4 linked regions of the Homo sapiens genome follow. The protein of the gene in region 2 interacts with the protein of the main gene of each other region in a pairwise test. Each region holds a gene or a part of one and is shown on either strand. Other genes may lie near its edges.

Region 1 (3,940 bases), on a different chromosome or scaffold from region 2:
GCAGAAGTAGGGCACCAAACACAGTAAAAAACTCCAAGAAGCTGGGCACTGTGGCTCACACCTGTAATCCCAGCACTTTGGAAGGCTGAGGTGAGTGGATCACTTGAGGTCAGCAGTTTGAGATCAGCCTGGCCAATATGGTAAAACTCCATCTTTACTAAAAAAAAATACAAAACTTAGCTGGGCATGGTGGCACACGCCTGTAATCCCAGCTACACGGGAGGCTGAGGCAGGAGAATCACTTGAGCCCGGGAGGCGGAGGTTGCAGTGAGCTGAGATTGTGCCACTGCACTCCAGCTTAGATGACACAGTGAGACTTCATCTCAAAAAAAAAAAAAAAAAAAAAAAAAAATCCAAGAAAGCTAATACAGTCTGGTAAAATATGTAGGAAAATGTATGGAATTACCACTAGTACAGTTATTATCCTGTGTGTAACTGTTGACATATTAATCAGTAAACATTAAAAGTACATGATTTGAATGAATTCTGATTTCTCCTGAGATAGTAATATTATGCGTATTAGGCTGGGCGTAGTAGCTCACATCTGTAATCCCAGCACTTTGGGAAGTGGAGGTGGGTGGATCACTTGAGGCCAGGAGTTCAAGACCAGCCTGGCCAACATGGTGAAACCCCATCTCTACTAAAAATACAAAAAAAAAAAAAAAAATTAGCCGGATATGTGCTTGTAATCCCAGCTACTCGGGAGGCCAAGGCAGGAGAATCACTTGAACCCAGCAGGTGGAGGTTGTGGTAAGCTGAGATCGTGCCACTGCACTCCAGCCTGGATGACAGAACGAGACTCTGTCTCAAAAAACAAACAAACAAACAAACAAAACTATGGGTATCAAATGTGGTATTGTTTTTGTTACAAGCTCTGATACAGATTCATGTCCATCCCTCCAAAATATGTATCTTCTAACTCTATCCACTGAAATAGTGTAAAAGAAATGACACCTCCGTAACAATGACTGCCCAGACTTTGGGCTCTAATTTCACTTTCCACTAAAGGAAATGGATTGAGAAATGGCTGATTCCAGCTCTGTGGTAGGGAAAGTACAAAGTGAGTCTAGGCCTCTTTTGGAGCCAGAGAACAAGGACACTTTCAAAATTTAATGGAGTTGTGACAAAAGGAGACAAGAGCCAGCATCAAGGTAGAGACTGTTCACTGGATAAAACTAAAAATTTGAGTGTCAAAAGGAATAATAATTGTGGATCCAAACATAATAAACCAATACAATTCCTCAAATTCCTGAGACCATATGATATCTAAAAATATAAGACCAGCAGACGTGGTGGCTCACGCCTGTAATCCCAGTACTTTGGGAGGCCGAGGTGGATGGATCACTTGAGGTCAGGAATTCAAGACCAGCCTGGCCAACATGGTGAAACCCCATCTCTACTAAAAATACAAAAACTAGGTGGGCACCTGTAGTCCCAGCTACTCGGGAGGCTGAGACAGGAGAATTGTTTGAACCTGGGAGGCAGAGGTTGCAGTGGGGCAAGATCACGCCATTACACTCCAGCCTGGGCAACAGAGCGAGACTCTGTCTCAAAAAAAAAAAGAAAAAAGAAAGCAGGTGTAGTGGAGACCTCCTTTGGTTGGACAGCCGCAACTAGACTGAAATCCTACCAGACAAGGATTCAGTAATCACTGGTAGATGCTGAGTATCTACAGTGGTGATTCTGACCTAGACACTTAAAGCATTTATACAGTTTATATTATCTTTGGCTCTGAACAGACCAGTATATAAAAACATATTAGACTAAGTGAATTAAAATGGAAATATAAAACTATTTACCATCAAAAGAATATACCCCACTTCAAGGTCTTGAAGGAGATTAAAAATCAATATACATAATTATGCTTTACGTGCAAAGTAAAAACACTAAGTTGGAAGAATTTTAAATATGGTAGAGTTGTGTGAAAACATTTCCCTCAGCAAATGAGATGATCCTAAAGCCCATAAATGTATTTTTTTTGTTTGTTTTTTGTTTTAGACAGTGTCTCACTCTGTCATTCAGGCTGGAGTGCAGTGGCGCGATCTCAGCTCACTGTAACCTCCACTTCCTGGGTTTGGGCAATTCTCGTGCCTCAGCCTCCTGAGTAGCTGGGATTATAGGTGTGCGCTACCATGCCAGCTAATTTTTGTATTTTTGGTGGATGGGGTTTCACCATGTTAGCCAGGCTGGTCTTTTTTTTTTTTTTGAGATGGAGTCTCGCTCAGTCGCCCAGGCTGGAGTGCAGTGATGCAATCTCGGCTCACTGCAAGCTCCGCCTCCCAGGTTCACACCATTCTCCTGCCTCAGCCTCCTGAGTAGCTGGGATTGCAGGCGCCCGCCACCACGCCTGGCTAATTTTTTTGTATTTTTAGTAGAGACGGGGTTTCACCATGTTAGCCAGGATGGTCTCGATCTCCTGACCTCATGATCCGCCTGCCTCGGCCTCCCAAAGTGCTGGGATTACAGGCGTGAGCCACCGCGCCCAGCCAACCAGGCTGGTCTTGAACTGAACTGGCCTCAAGCAATCTGCCCGCCTTGGCCTCCCGAAGTGCTGGGATTACGTGTGTGAGCCACTGTGCCTGGCCAACTGTACATATTTCTTAAGAAGTAAAATGATGGGCCAGGTACTGTGGCTCACGCCTGTAACCCCAGCATTTTGGGAGGCTGAGGCAGGTGGATCACTTGACCCCAGGAGTTCAAGACCAGCCTGGGCAACATGATGAAACCCCATCTCTACAAAAAATATAAAAATACAAAAATTAGCCTGGCATGTTGGTGCAGGCCTGTAGTCCCAGCTACTCAGGAGGCTGAGGCGGGAGGATAATTTGAGCCTGAGAAGTCGCGGCTGCAGTGAGCTGAGATGGCACCACTGCACTCCAGCTTGGGCGATAGAGAGAGACCCTGTCTCAAAAAAAAAAACAAAAGCTGCAGTGAGCTGAGATGGCACCACTGCACTCCAGCTTGGGCGATAGAGAGAGACCCTGTCTCAAAAAAAAAAAACAAAACAAGGCCGGGCGTGGTGGCTCATGCCTGTAATCCCAGCACTTTTGGGAGGCTGAGGCAGGTGAATCACCTGAGGTTGGGTGTTTGAGACCAGCCAGGCCAATGTGGTGAAACCCCATCTCTACTAAAAATACAAAAATTAGCCAGGCGTGGTGGCACACACCTGTATCCCAACTACTTGGGAGGCTGAGGCAGGAGAATTGCTTGAACCCGGGAGGCAGAGGTTGCAGCGAGCTGAGATTACACCATTGTACTCCAGCCTGGCAACAAGAGTGAAACTCCATCTCAAAAAAACAAAAACAAAAACCAAAAAAGAATTAGTAAAACGATGAAAAAAAATCATACATACTGTTCGAAAATGGCTACTTAGATGGTCTAGCCTGCTAAATCTTTTTCCACAAGCTTGACATGGATAGGGCCTTTCTCCTGTATGACAACGAAGGTGGCGCTTTAGGTCTGCCTTCCGCTTCACCACATGTGTGCAGTACGGGCACTTGAATCGCATCCGAGGCAGATCATCTGTCAAGAGACGCTTTGATTAAATCACTGGAAAGTTCATAACAATTCTAATAACAGAAAGAATCCAATCCAAGCCCAATGGAAACAAGGAAAGAAAAAAATAAACTTAAAAAAAAAGAAATAAAAAGAATTCACAAGGAGTTGGTTAGCCCAAAAAGTAAGAGACGAAAGAAATTTTATTAAGACTAGATTGTCAATGTAATCCTAAGTATGGAACTTTAACTTCGGTATTTGATATATTTAGAAAGTTGGGTAAATTCAGACTGCTATGCTTTTTTTTTTTTTTTTGAGATAGAGTTTCGCTCTGTTGCCCAGGCTGGAGTGCAATGGCGCAATCTCCACTCACTGCAACCTCTGCCTCCTGGGTTCTCCTGAAGCGATTCTTCTGCCTCAGGCTCCTGAGTAGCTGGGATTACAG
Region 2 (4,494 bases):
TAGAGTTTTCTTTTTCTTTTCTGATGAGCAGATTTTAGTGTTGATAAAGTGTCAGTTCAGGAAATCGCTGCTTCTGTACCCTAAAGTCAGATCTTATGTGAGTTATAACTTTTTACTTTCAGAACCCTGAATGAACAATTTGATTCCTACCTGTATTTTTGGATTTTGCCTTAAAGCAGCGTCACTCCCTTTCACTCAAGCGTAGACCCAAACATAACAAGAAACCAGAAGAAAGTAAACACACACACACACACACACACACACACACACAAACTAGCAAAAAGTTCATCGATTTTGTAAATCATTATATAGATATTCATTCATTTATTCATGTAGCAAAATGTGTTGAATGCCTGCTGTGTGCCAGACAGCTCAGTGCCTGGGTGCGTGGACACAGAGATTAACACAAGAACATGGAAATATGTAATCGTAATGCATGATGAAGTGCTCTCCTTAGCTGATTAGAGGAAGTCAAGAGAAGATCAGAAGGAAAGAGAGGCATTGACTTAGGTTTTCCCCGTCATAAGGTTGGATGGAGGGCCCAGAGAGGAGACATCTGAGGTGGCAAGAACAGCATGCACAGAGCTCAGGGGCGTAGAACCATCTCACTCATTTCAGGAAAGGGAGGTCAGTCAGGATGGTTGGAGCACAGGGGAGAGTTGGAGAGTAGGGGGAGATATTCAGGAGAAATGGGAGGGCCAAATGTGGGACACTCAATCACTCTCTTTTGAATTTTAGGAGTTTTAGGCTTTATCCTATATATATGTGAATATCTCGTAGGCAGGTTAATGAAGTTAAATGATTGACCATAAATTCTTTTCTCTTTTTAGTTACACATTCTTTCCTTTTTTGTATTCCTTGCCTCTTTCCTTTTGTTCCAAGTCCAAAATGAGGTCTTCTGTTCCATCGCAGTTCACTTATGCAGCTCCAAGTATCTGCCATTTCCACGCTTTTATCTGTACTACCCAGTAGTGCTCCATTACCTCAAGGCTCCTAAAATGATAACAGTCAAATAATTAAAGTGAAAATGATTCTCCATGAGAAGATTTCACTTCAAATGAGTCATGGAGACAATCTGGACTTGATTTATAGAAAAGACAGACTTAAACTTGAGACAAGTTTAACCTTTCTGCCAATATAGAAGATTAGATTTGCAAACAATGCCCATTTTCTTTACAATGAATTATTTTCCCTTTTATTTCTATAAGAATTAGTGGCACTTATATTATTATGTATTATGAATTATGTATGACTCATTAAGTTCTACCAAGCTACACTCACATTTAGAAGGTATTGCCAGAAAATCTCGCCTTTAGGGAAACCGAGCTGTCAAAAAGTCAACAGTTACCTAATTGCTCTGGGAAATACAATGAATTTATAACAGTTAGGCTACTGAGGAAACACTTGGATTGCCCAGGCTTTCTGTGGTGGAGAACTTCCTCCTCCAGTGGGAGAAACTGCCAGTAAAGGAAGAATGACGATTTACATACTATAGCAAGGCTAATCTGCCCCAGGTCTTAGTCACGGCCTGCCTATTTGAGACATCCTGGGAAATCCCTATTTGGAAGAGAAGAAAAGTTAAAATCCCAGTTGCAGTGCTTATAACTTTATTCTGTGTAATTCCTATCCACAGTCACTTCTGTTCATTTTTAATGAAAACCTATTGCTGTTATTTTCTATTATGAGTTAACGGTGATGTGTGTTTTTTAAATTTTGTATACTTGCTCTCACCCTAAAATATACCTTAAGAGACTTTTCCCCTGTTTTTCTTTCTGCTTTCCAAGACTCCAGGAAAAACAGCTTCCATGGCACATTTTGTACAGGGCACATCTAGAATGATTGCCGCAGAAAGTTCTACGGAGCATAAAGAGGTAAGAACATATTTCTAGGAGATGAGTTGATCACATCTAGCATTGATGGCATTTCTAGTGGTTAATTGTGCACTTATTAATAAGAACAGAAATGGCTAGTTTGCTTTCTTTAGCTAAGATTTGCTCTATATTTTTAACCAAAATTATGTAACATAGAAAAAAATATCTAAGTAACCAGTACATTGCTTTTAACCCACGGGGCTTAAATTCCTTTCAGCCTTCCAGTTCTGTGGGTTCCTTATTTTGTTCTTGATTTTTGTTCTATAAAAATCTTAAAAGAATACTATATTGGTGTAGGTAGAAATAGAACATATTGTAACAATAGAGTATCTGTAGTAATATTTTTATATATTTACAATTGGTACCATAGATTTTGTTCAGCAACAGAGACTACTGCTAATTGAATGAATGAATTCAAATATTTTCTAGTTTTCTTTTACAGATAACCAAGGTATAATGGGAAACTAAATGGAAACTTCTATTCATTTAAGTTTTTAATTTAGTAGCATCAGACCTTGAATATACATTGGTAAGGATGTTATCATAGAGAAAGAAGTGCCCAGATGCTTTGAACAGAAATTCTACTTTATAGGGAATAATTATAGGAAATTATGTATAGGGAATAACTGTTCCGTAAGCAGCCCTTGCTAGAATCAATGACTGAAAATCTTTGTAGTTACTGCAAATCAGATGCCTTCATTAGCAACTGTAAAGCAAAGTAAATACAAATTGAAAAGGTCCCCCAAACCTTTGTATTTGATTAATTTCGCTTTATTTTATAGAAACCTGAGACATATGAACTATAACAAAATGTTGATTAATCTCCAGAGAAAGCTTTGGTGATACATTTGTGACTTACATGCCATTCCTAGTCACTATGTTTTCTATTTTTCCTCCCTCCTATCCTCCCCCACCTATAACTGAATATTACTTATGAATTTCAAAAACTAGTACTCGTGCAGTTACAAATAGAGCCTCTTGCAGATTTGGTATCTAGATTTTCAGTAATTTTTATTTATTAAAGAAAAATCAAGGGTGAAATGTATTATAATTTTCTTCCAGAGAAAATTGTTTATGGGGAAACAAACAAAAAGCACACTGTCTCATTGTTCCACATCTGGGCTCCCAAAGGCAGGGACATACAAATGTTTGCCAATCACGGATTTTTGTCTACATCACAAACAGAGAGGAGACATTTTTGAGGACCCATAATTTATTCCCTAGAATGGGAATATATTGAACTTTAGTATGAATCAAAATTACCTAGGAAATGTATTAGAAATAGAGGTGCCCTGGCTGCTCTTCTAGAAATTCTGATCCATTGTTCAGGATGCTCTATGTTTAGCAAGCTTAACGGTGACTTTGATGTGCTCTTGTGGTGGGAACCACCATTCTAAAATCCAGTCTTACTGTGCCCCTACTTTGCTGATGACCTCAAGATACACTAAGTAGGGTTGGCTCACAGCATTTTCCAGATCAAAGATGCTTAATAGTTAGTCTGTTCTAACCCAGAATGGGTCCAGTTTCTTGGAAGTCTTCCCCAAAAGAAGAAGGTCCAATTACGGGCCCCAACATACTTGACACTTGGGTTTCAGTGTCACTCTTGGTGCTCAGCCAGAACACCTTCTTGAGGTCAAGAGCAAATATAATCATTCAGAATTTATTGACCCACAGAAGACTGTCTCTTTTTAAATGTGGTCTTAATTGTAACATAGGTCTAAATAGGAAGAAGCTAAGGAAACGAGAACATCTCTGCTTACTTAAAATACCATCAAACCCTAAAATGCTGAAACATAAACAAACAGAGAAAAGATAGAAAATACAGTTTTATAAATAATTTCTGATGAAAAAAGGTGCTTGAAATCCCATGATGATTGCAAAGAACAATTTCCTGTACACATTTCTGGCAAAGACCAACAACATGTTTTGAAAATATTTCTTAATGGTTCACAAATAGCTTTAAGCAACTTAGTGATCCACAGTAACTATTAAGCCTGAAACAGATTACAGATGTAGGAATTACTCTCATCATCCAATAAATTGTATTACTTATATGACTCTGAGATGAGATAGTAATAAGACTATTGAATTATTATAGAGGATCCAGTCCTTTATTTAAGTAAATATTGTTCTTAGTCGATTTAGGCAGATGGCAGACAGCTTCCACAGCTTTTGTGTTATCTTTAAATGAATACTCTCACTCCTGAAAAAAATAACTGAAAAGAAAGGTGGTAAATTTTCATTATGCCAGTAATTTATTATTAATCTAAACTAGTAACCTAGTGACTTTATTCAAAGAGCTGGCTAAAATTACACAGTAATTACACAGTAATGGCTGTATGTGTTTGTCTTTTTCTCGATGATTTTGTCGTTCCTCTGACGTTTACTGGGTCTACTTTTCAGAATATTACTCACATACATGTTCATGGGCACAGCTACCAAAATGACTTTTATGAAATGTTTACTATAAAAATACCTAAAATATATCCATGAAACTTACCTGATTTCTGAATTGTCATTTTTTTGGAAAAGGATTGAAATCCAAATTCATAAAATTTTAATCTCTGACTTACCCGTTATAGTATACAGATATATTTATAATTTATTAAAGAATTATATTGGT
Region 3 (3,940 bases), on a different chromosome or scaffold from region 2:
TTTTAAAGGTAAGATAGAGGAATATAAATTTGGAGGTTGGCAAAACTGGAGGCAGGAGGCCAGGCGCGGTGGCTCATGCCTGTAATCCCAGCATTTTGGGAGGGCAAGGTGGACTGATCACTTGAGGTCAGGAGTTCAAGAACACCCTGACCAACATGGTGAAACCCTGTCTCTACTAAAAATACAAAAATTAACCGGGTGTGGTGGCACTTGGCTGTAATCCCAGCTACTCAGGAGGCTGGGGCAGTAGAATCACTTGAACCTGGCAGGAGGAGGTGGCAGTGAGCCAAGGTTGCGCCACTGCACTCTAGCCTGGGCAACAGCACTTGGCCTTCCAAAGTGCTGGAATTATAGGCGTGAGCCCCTGTGCCTGGTCCCTCTATCCATTTTTAGCCTGTTTCTTTCAAGTGTTTTTAAAATATGTTTATTATGAAACTGAAAGTTTTTCTTTATGACAAATCATATAATTTATCTTTTTCTCTTTACGAAGATTGAAGAATTGGAGGAGAAACTTAATGATGCACTTCACCAGAAGCAGCTACTAACATTGAGATTAGACAACCAATTGGCTTTTCAACAGAAAGATGCCAGGTAAGAAAAGTTTTTTTTAAAAAAAAAACAACATCTATTTAGCAATTAAAAGTAATTTTATTGCCTGTTCATGTTTGTGACTGTAAGCTAAAATAGAGAAATTTTAAGTCAGAGATAGCAATAATTTTTACACCTAGACCACAAAAAAAGTAGGATACTTGATATGGTACATAAAATACAGAAAGTCAAAATTCAACATTCATTCAACAAACATTGGTCAGTGTAAACCATATATGATAAAGGAAGCTCTCTAAACTGACCACCATTAACCTTTCTTCTTTTACGCAACATATTGATTGATTCTCATGACCCATTGGACTTTCCTGGCCTGAAGTACTTTCTATTATTCCTGTGTACTTTCTCTAGCTCAGTTGTGGGCTTATCATGCTTAAATATGCCTATGGCAATTATACTTATGTAACTTAATTAAAAATAATACAAACAATGAAATAAATTCTTTGGAACGATTCAATAAAAGGAACTAAAAAAATTATGAAATTAAATATAAGCAACACAAGTTTAAAGATTGAGGGCAAACATGAAATCCATATAAGATACCTTCATTGGTTTCTTCCTAAATGTCTTTTAGGATCTCATGCCATTGTAAAGAAATTGAACTTGGAAATCATACATGATGATTTACACAAAATCAAATCATACCTCTGTATTCAAAATATCTGGATCCTATATAAAAATGTGAATGTTTAGTTCTATGTTTTAATTACAGGTAAAAGTGTAAAACAGGTAAATTTTCCCTTTTTAAGATTTTACTACTTAACTGATATTGTAAAAAATTATCGGACCTTTTTATCAGCCACTATCACACTAGATTAGTGGACCTCAAACTTTAGCATGTATCAGGAACAGTTGAAGGGCTTGTTAAAGAAGCCTACTGGATCCCACCCTCAGAGTTTCTGACTTGTGGGGGTGGGGTCCTGAGAATGTGCATTTTTACTGGGTTCGCAGGTGATGCAGATGCTGCTGGTCCAGAAACAATACTTTGAGAACCACTGCATTTGATAATAGGTCTTCTATGCTAATTCTGTAAGACATATATCAGATTGAATGATGCTGCTGAGAGGGCAGTCACGAGTCTATTGTAATAAAACTCTTGATAGCTGATGGTCATAAAAAATGGTTGGATTCTGAATATTTTTTGGAGGGCTGATGGATTCAATGTGGGGCTTAAGAGAAAAAGGGGAGTCAAGGATTACATCAAAAGTTTTGGCCTGAACAAATGAAAAAATGGAATTTCTGTCAGCTAAGAAGAAAGAAATCATGGTAGCAAAGGTTTTGTGAGTAAAAAGCCTGAGTTCAATTTGGGACATGTTAAGTTGGAGTTTTCTAGTTAGAAATCCATGTGGAGGTATACGAAAAGTCTCGTGTAGAGGTACAAATCTGGGGATCATTAGGCTATAGACAGTATTCAAGTCATGAGACTAGATGAATTCCCCAAGGAGTGCGTACAGACAGAAGAGGACCAAGTACTCCAACATTAAGACAAAGCAGAAAAGGAGACTGAGAAGGAACCACAGTAAAATAGAAGAAAAATGAACAGTATGATGTCTTGGAAGCCAGGTGATGAAAATGTATCAAGGAAAGAAAGTGACTTGTGTCAAGCTCTATCATTAGATCATGGAGGAAAAGAACTAAGAATTGATCATTTGCAATTTAGATGTCATTGAGATTTCATTGGAGACAGTAAAAATATGATCGCCATGGGTTTAAGAGGAAAGGATTTGGAGACAATAATTATAGACAACTTTTGAGCAAGCTTGCTCCAAAGGGGTGGCTAACAAAGGGGGAAGTGCAGTGAAGTCCAGAGTTGTGGTTTTGTTTGTTCATTTGTTGTAAGATTGAAATAACAGCATGTGTGTCTGTTAATGGGATTGATATAGTAGGGAAGGGGAAAATCAGTAATATGATTTGGCTGTGTCCCCACCCAAATCTCATCTTGAATTATAGCTCCCATAATTCCTACATGTCATGGGAGGGACCTGATGGGAGGTAACTGAATCATGGAGGTGGTCTTTCCCATGCTGTTCTCATGATAGTGAATAAGTCTCACAAGATCTGATGGTTTTATAAATGGGAGTTCCCCTGCACAAGCACTCTTGTCTGCCACCATGTAAGACATGCCTTTGCTTCTCTTTTGCCTTCCGCCATGATTGTGAGGCCTCCCCTGCCATGTGGAAGTCTGAGTCCAGTAAACCTCTTTCCTTTATAAATTACCCAGTCTTGGGTATGTCTTTATTAGTAGCATGAGAGCAGACTAATAACATCAGATTGTCCCTTCCTGATCAGAATCTTTCAGTAGGCAACTAACAATAATGTCTGCTACATGTATTCTTTGAGAATGATGAGTATGTGCAGATTACTGTTTTCATTACCTCATTGGTTGAGTGAATACCTTATGGTGGTTCAGTGTTACCATCTTAAAGAGATATCCTTGAAGTATCAGGATAAAAGGGAAATGAAAATTACTTTAATAAGTAGAGTCCTTGATGTTTAACATTAAACCTTAAGCAGAAGAAATATATAATTTTATAATTTGAATTTCTAAAATTATTCTTTAAGAATATCAATTCTCTGTTTAATAATTTATATGGTTACACATTTAATAATTAGTATGGAATTGTCATTTCATATTTAACTGATTAATATGAGTAAATAAGTATTTAGCTGGAGTAAGTAAATAATACTGTCAGGTTTCTGATTTCCTAACTTTATGTTGATATAAATAGGAAACTGTGAGAAAATTAGATCTCAAATACTTTTTTAAAGCCTGCCATAAATTCTCTTCTAATGTAGCAAATATCAAGAATTAATGAAACAAGAAATGGAAACCATTTTGTTGAGACAGAAACAACTAGAAGAGACAAATCTTCAGCTAAGAGAAAAAGCTGGAGATGTTCGTCGAAACCTGCGTGACTTTGAGTTGACAGAAGAGCAATATATTAAATTAAAAGCTTTTCCTGAAGATCAGCTTTCTATTCCTGAATATGTATCTGTAAGTATCTTATATCTATTTTTAACTATGACATATATTTTCAGACTAAAATTTACCATTTATATAGTAGCAATTACTTTTGAAGTACCCAATTGATACATTATTTTATGGCTATGGATGGTGAATGGTGTTGAGATCCAAATTTTAAAGGATCATGACCATTGATCTCCAAAGTCAAGCAATAAATAGGTTTCTGAAGTTAATGACTGCATAGTCCATAGAAATGAATTATCGTAAACTGGTGGTTTCTTACATTCTCAAAATGAAAAATTATAAACAACAGAGTAGTTGTTGCCAGGGGTTGGTTGGGGATAGTGGGAGAGAGGAGTCAGCGTGGTT
Region 4 (3,940 bases), on a different chromosome or scaffold from region 2:
CCAAGGATCCCTCCTGTGTTACAGATGGATCAGCTAAAACAAGCCAACACTGAAGACACAAAGAATGAGGTTAGGTTCATTGAAACCAGGGTAACACCTTTGGATGAGCTAAACACAAAGATGACACTGACCTTGAGCAGGTATAGAAGCTCAGAGACATGCCTGCAAAATGAAATCCCTGAGGAATTTTGTAGCTACCCAAAGATACGTGGTTCAAATTAAAATGTCCGACTGATCACTCCCGGCATGTGCTGCACAGTTATGTGAACGTGTCACACCTAACGTGGGTCCATTGTCTTCAGACTGAGCACAGGTTGCCACTGGCATGGTTTGAGAATAGGAAAAGAGCCATGCCCACTGACCCATCCTATGTCTGGGCTTCCAAATGGAACTGTAGTTTCATTCAAATCTTCACGTGCCTATAGGTCCTGCCTGCAGGAATGACATCTCTCGGCTTAGTAAGGGCTGCCTATTGTGGGAATATGACTAACATCTGGAACACCAGATGGAGACTTGTCACCGTCAAAGTAAAAAACCTATTGTCCAAGTAAAGGGCGAAGCTGATATGCTCTTCCTCAAATGAGTAAAACACACTTCTGTAGTGCTGGAATGAGTCAGGTAGTTCAAAGTACATTGACGGAGTCGAATAACATCCATCCAGTGAGTCCTGTAAGACTTCAGGCTCTTCCACTTCCATCAGCACGCTGTTGAGCCTGGAAAAGGAGACAAAACTAAAGAAGCAGCCAGGGAAAATCAGACACCACAGAGCCCCACTAGATTTCAGAAGTCACATAAGGAAGTGGTTAGAAAAGAAAAAGGATAGATCCATTAATGAGGTAAAAAAAAAAATTTATTGCCTTTATGTTGGGATAGAACAGGGCCAGGTAGAAAACAATGAAAGAGAAAGACAGAGAGAGAGAGACAGAGACAGAGACAGAGAGAAAGTGACCTAGTGAATTGGCCAGGTGACATACTGGTAAGGGAGTAAAAGGACACTCTGAGTTAGTGCCCTCATGACACACAGCAAACTGTGATCATGAAAAGAGTGAGCTCAATAGTTTTCCATAAAATATGCTCAAAATTCGATGCAGTGGCCATGAGAGTACAGCTTTTGAAGTATGGTCAACCTATGGTACGCTAGTAAATGATAAGGGGAGGAAGAAATGGAAACCTAAACATCTACTGCAATGAAAACCAACAGCAATGACAGTAGGAGTAATTCAGCCTTCGTTGAAAACATGACATCAAACACACTCTGGTTTCCCTGAATCTGTTGCCTCCAGGTGTTAACACAGAATTAAGCATCCACAATTGCTGAAAGTCACCTGGGGCATGGTGGGTTTTGATCTTCTTCCCCTTCTTTTCTTCCCCTTCTTCTTTCCTTCTTTGATCTTCTTCCCCTTCTTTTCTTCCCCTTCCCCTTCTTTTCAATTTCTGCAATAAATTCAGACATGGACAGACACATTAAGCTGATTCCCCTACACACATAACAATCCACTGTCTAATCCTCACACAGGGACCTCAGGCTCCTCAGCATAAGAATAGGACACTGTGAGAGATATATTTCAGGAGGCCTGAAGGCTGGTCATGATAGAAATTCCTCGGTTTTTCTCCCAGAAACTGTGGGTAAAATGTCCCTATTCTAGTAGATCGTTATCCCAATATCATTTGTCCCAAGTTTGTGCAAACAGTTATGCCATATTTTTCCAATCAATTTAAAGCAAATACCCTCAAATGATTTCTGGGAGAAAAACTGCAATATTTAGCCCTGTCTCATCAAATACTCAGATTGTTCATGGTTGTGAGGACTTTAGACACTGAAATTAGAGTGAAAAAGGAAATCTACAAACCCTTGAGTCAAAATCATAGTTCTCTGAATTTGTCACATCTGCCCAGGTCCAATGTCATGAGAGTAGAATCAGAGTGCCACAGGTATGGCCTGAGACTAGGAAGAGAGCCATGCTCACTGACCCATCCCATGTCTGGGCTTCCAGGTAGAACTAGAGTTTCATTCAACCTACATGTGCCTATAGGTCCTCACTGCGGCAATGACATCTCTCAGCTCAGTAATGGCCACTTGGAGCAGGAATATGATCTTTATATGGAAGACTCAGTGGATGCTTATCACCTTCATAGAAAGGTACTCACCTCCCACGTCAAGAGAAAAGCCAACATGTTTTTCCTCCAATGCATAAAAGGAACTTCCATAGGGCTGGCAGGAGTCAGGCTGTTCAAGACAACTGGAAGGAGTTGAATAACATCTATCCAGTGAGTCCTGCAAGACTTCAGGCTCTACTACCTCCAGCAGCTCCCTGCTGAGCCTGGAAAAGGAGGAAAAAGTAAAGAATAAGCCAGGGGAAATCACACACAACAGAGCCCCAACTAGGTTTCATGGGTAGCATAAGGAAGTGGTTAAGAAAGTAAAAGGATAGATCCATTAATGAGGTAACAAATTATTGCCTTCATGTTGGGACAGAACAGGGCCAAATGGAAAAGAATGAAAGAGAAAGACAGATAGACACACACACACACACAGACACACACACAGAGAGAGAGAGAACGAGCTCAGTGAATTGTCCAGGTGACACACTGATGAGGGAGTAACAGGACACTCTGAGTTAGTGCCCTCAGGACACACAGCATACAGTGATCATGAAAAGACTGTGCTCAATAATTTTCCATAAAATGTGTTCAAGTTTCCATGCAGTCGCCATGAGAATACAGTTTTTGAAGTCTGGTCCACCTACAGTAGGTTAGTAAATGATAAGGGGAGGAAGAAATGGAAACCTAAATATCTACTGCAATGAAAACCAACAGCAATGTTAGTAGGAATAATTCAGGCTTGCTTGAAAAGATGTAATCGATAATGTCAGCCCGCTCTGTTTTCCCTGAACCAGGAGTCTCCAGATGTCAACACAGAAGTAGCTGTTCACAATTGCTCAGTTACCTGGGGCATGGTGGGCCTTGGTCTTCTTCCTCTTCTTGGTCCTTTTTAATTCCTGCAATACATTCAGACAGGGACAGACAAAATAAGCCAATTCACCTACACCCATAACAGTCCACTGTCTAATCCCCACACAGGGATCTCAGGCTCCTCAGCATGAGAACAGGACAATGTGAGAGATATACTTCAGGAGGCCTGAAAGCTGGTCATGATATTCTTTGGTTTGCATCTCAGAACCAAGGGTGAAATATCCCCATTCTGGAAGATCGTTATCCCAAAATCACTTATCCCAAGTTTGTGCAAACAGTTATGCCTTATTGTTCCCATCAGTTCAAAGAAAATGCCCCAGATGATTTCTAGGAGGAAAACTGCAGTATTCAGCCCTGTCTCATCAAATGCCCAGCTCGTTCATGGATGTAAGAATTTTAGACACTGAAATTAGAATGAAGGAGGAAATCTACAAACCCTTGAGTCCAAATCATAGTTCTGTGAATTTTTTACATCTGCCTGGGTCCAATGTGCTGAGAGCGGGCTCAGGTTGCCACAGGCATGGCTGGAGACTAGGAATAGAGCCTTGCTCACTGACCCATTTCATGTCTAGGCTTCCAACTGAGACTACAGTTTCATTACAACCTATATGCGCCCATAGGTCCTGCCTGCGGCAATGACATCTCTCGGGTCAGTAAGGGCCACTTGGAACAGGAATATCACCCCTATCTGGAAGACCAGGTGGAGGCTTATCACCTTCATAGTAAGGTACTCACTGTCCACGTCAAGAGCCAAGCCAAGGTACTGTTCCTCCAATGAGTAAACAGCACTGCTGTAGGGCTGGCCTAAGTCAGGCAGTTCAAGATAACCTGAAGGAGTCGAATAACATCTATCCAGTGGGTCCTGCAAGACTTCAGGCTCTTTCTCAGCCAGCAGCTCCCTGCTGAGCCTGGAAAAGTAGGAAAAAGTAAAGAATAAGCCAGGGGGAATCAGAAACCACACAGCCCC

What was found.
Region 1: the proteins of TNIP3 (region 2) and ZBTB8A interact in binary tests that used the Homo sapiens proteins (3 or more experiments, as listed by UniProt).
Region 3: the proteins of TNIP3 (region 2) and PIBF1 interact in a two-hybrid assay, tested with the Homo sapiens proteins (one large-scale study listed by BioGRID).
Region 4: the proteins of TNIP3 (region 2) and NBPF19 interact in a two-hybrid assay, tested with the Homo sapiens proteins (one large-scale study listed by BioGRID).

The regions. Positions count from the first base shown.
Region 1 is NC_000001.11:32,594,636-32,598,575, reverse strand, and holds part of ZBTB8A (zinc finger and BTB domain-containing protein 8A), read right to left. Parts: intron 3,523-3,940; coding exon 3,353-3,522; intron 1-3,352. UniProt on the Homo sapiens protein: May be involved in transcriptional regulation.
Region 2 is NC_000004.12:121,161,437-121,165,930, reverse strand, and holds the start of TNIP3 (TNFAIP3-interacting protein 3), read left to right. Parts: upstream 1-1,609; 5' UTR 1,610-1,784; coding exon of another isoform or gene 1,785-1,805; coding exon 1,806-1,871; intron 1,872-4,494. UniProt on the Homo sapiens protein: Binds to zinc finger protein TNFAIP3 and inhibits NF-kappa-B activation induced by tumor necrosis factor, Toll-like receptor 4 (TLR4), interleukin-1 and 12-O-tetradecanoylphorbol-13-acetate.
Region 3 is NC_000013.11:72,791,957-72,795,896, forward strand, and holds part of PIBF1 (progesterone-induced-blocking factor 1), read left to right. Parts: intron 1-490; coding exon 491-591; intron 592-3,402; coding exon 3,403-3,601; intron 3,602-3,940.
Region 4 is NC_000001.11:149,551,268-149,555,207, reverse strand, and holds part of NBPF19 (NBPF family member NBPF19), read right to left. Parts: intron 3,882-3,940; coding exon 3,709-3,881; intron 3,000-3,708; coding exon 2,948-2,999; intron 2,322-2,947; coding exon 2,149-2,321; intron 1,435-2,148; coding exon 1,326-1,434; intron 714-1,325; coding exon 470-713; 3' UTR 1-469.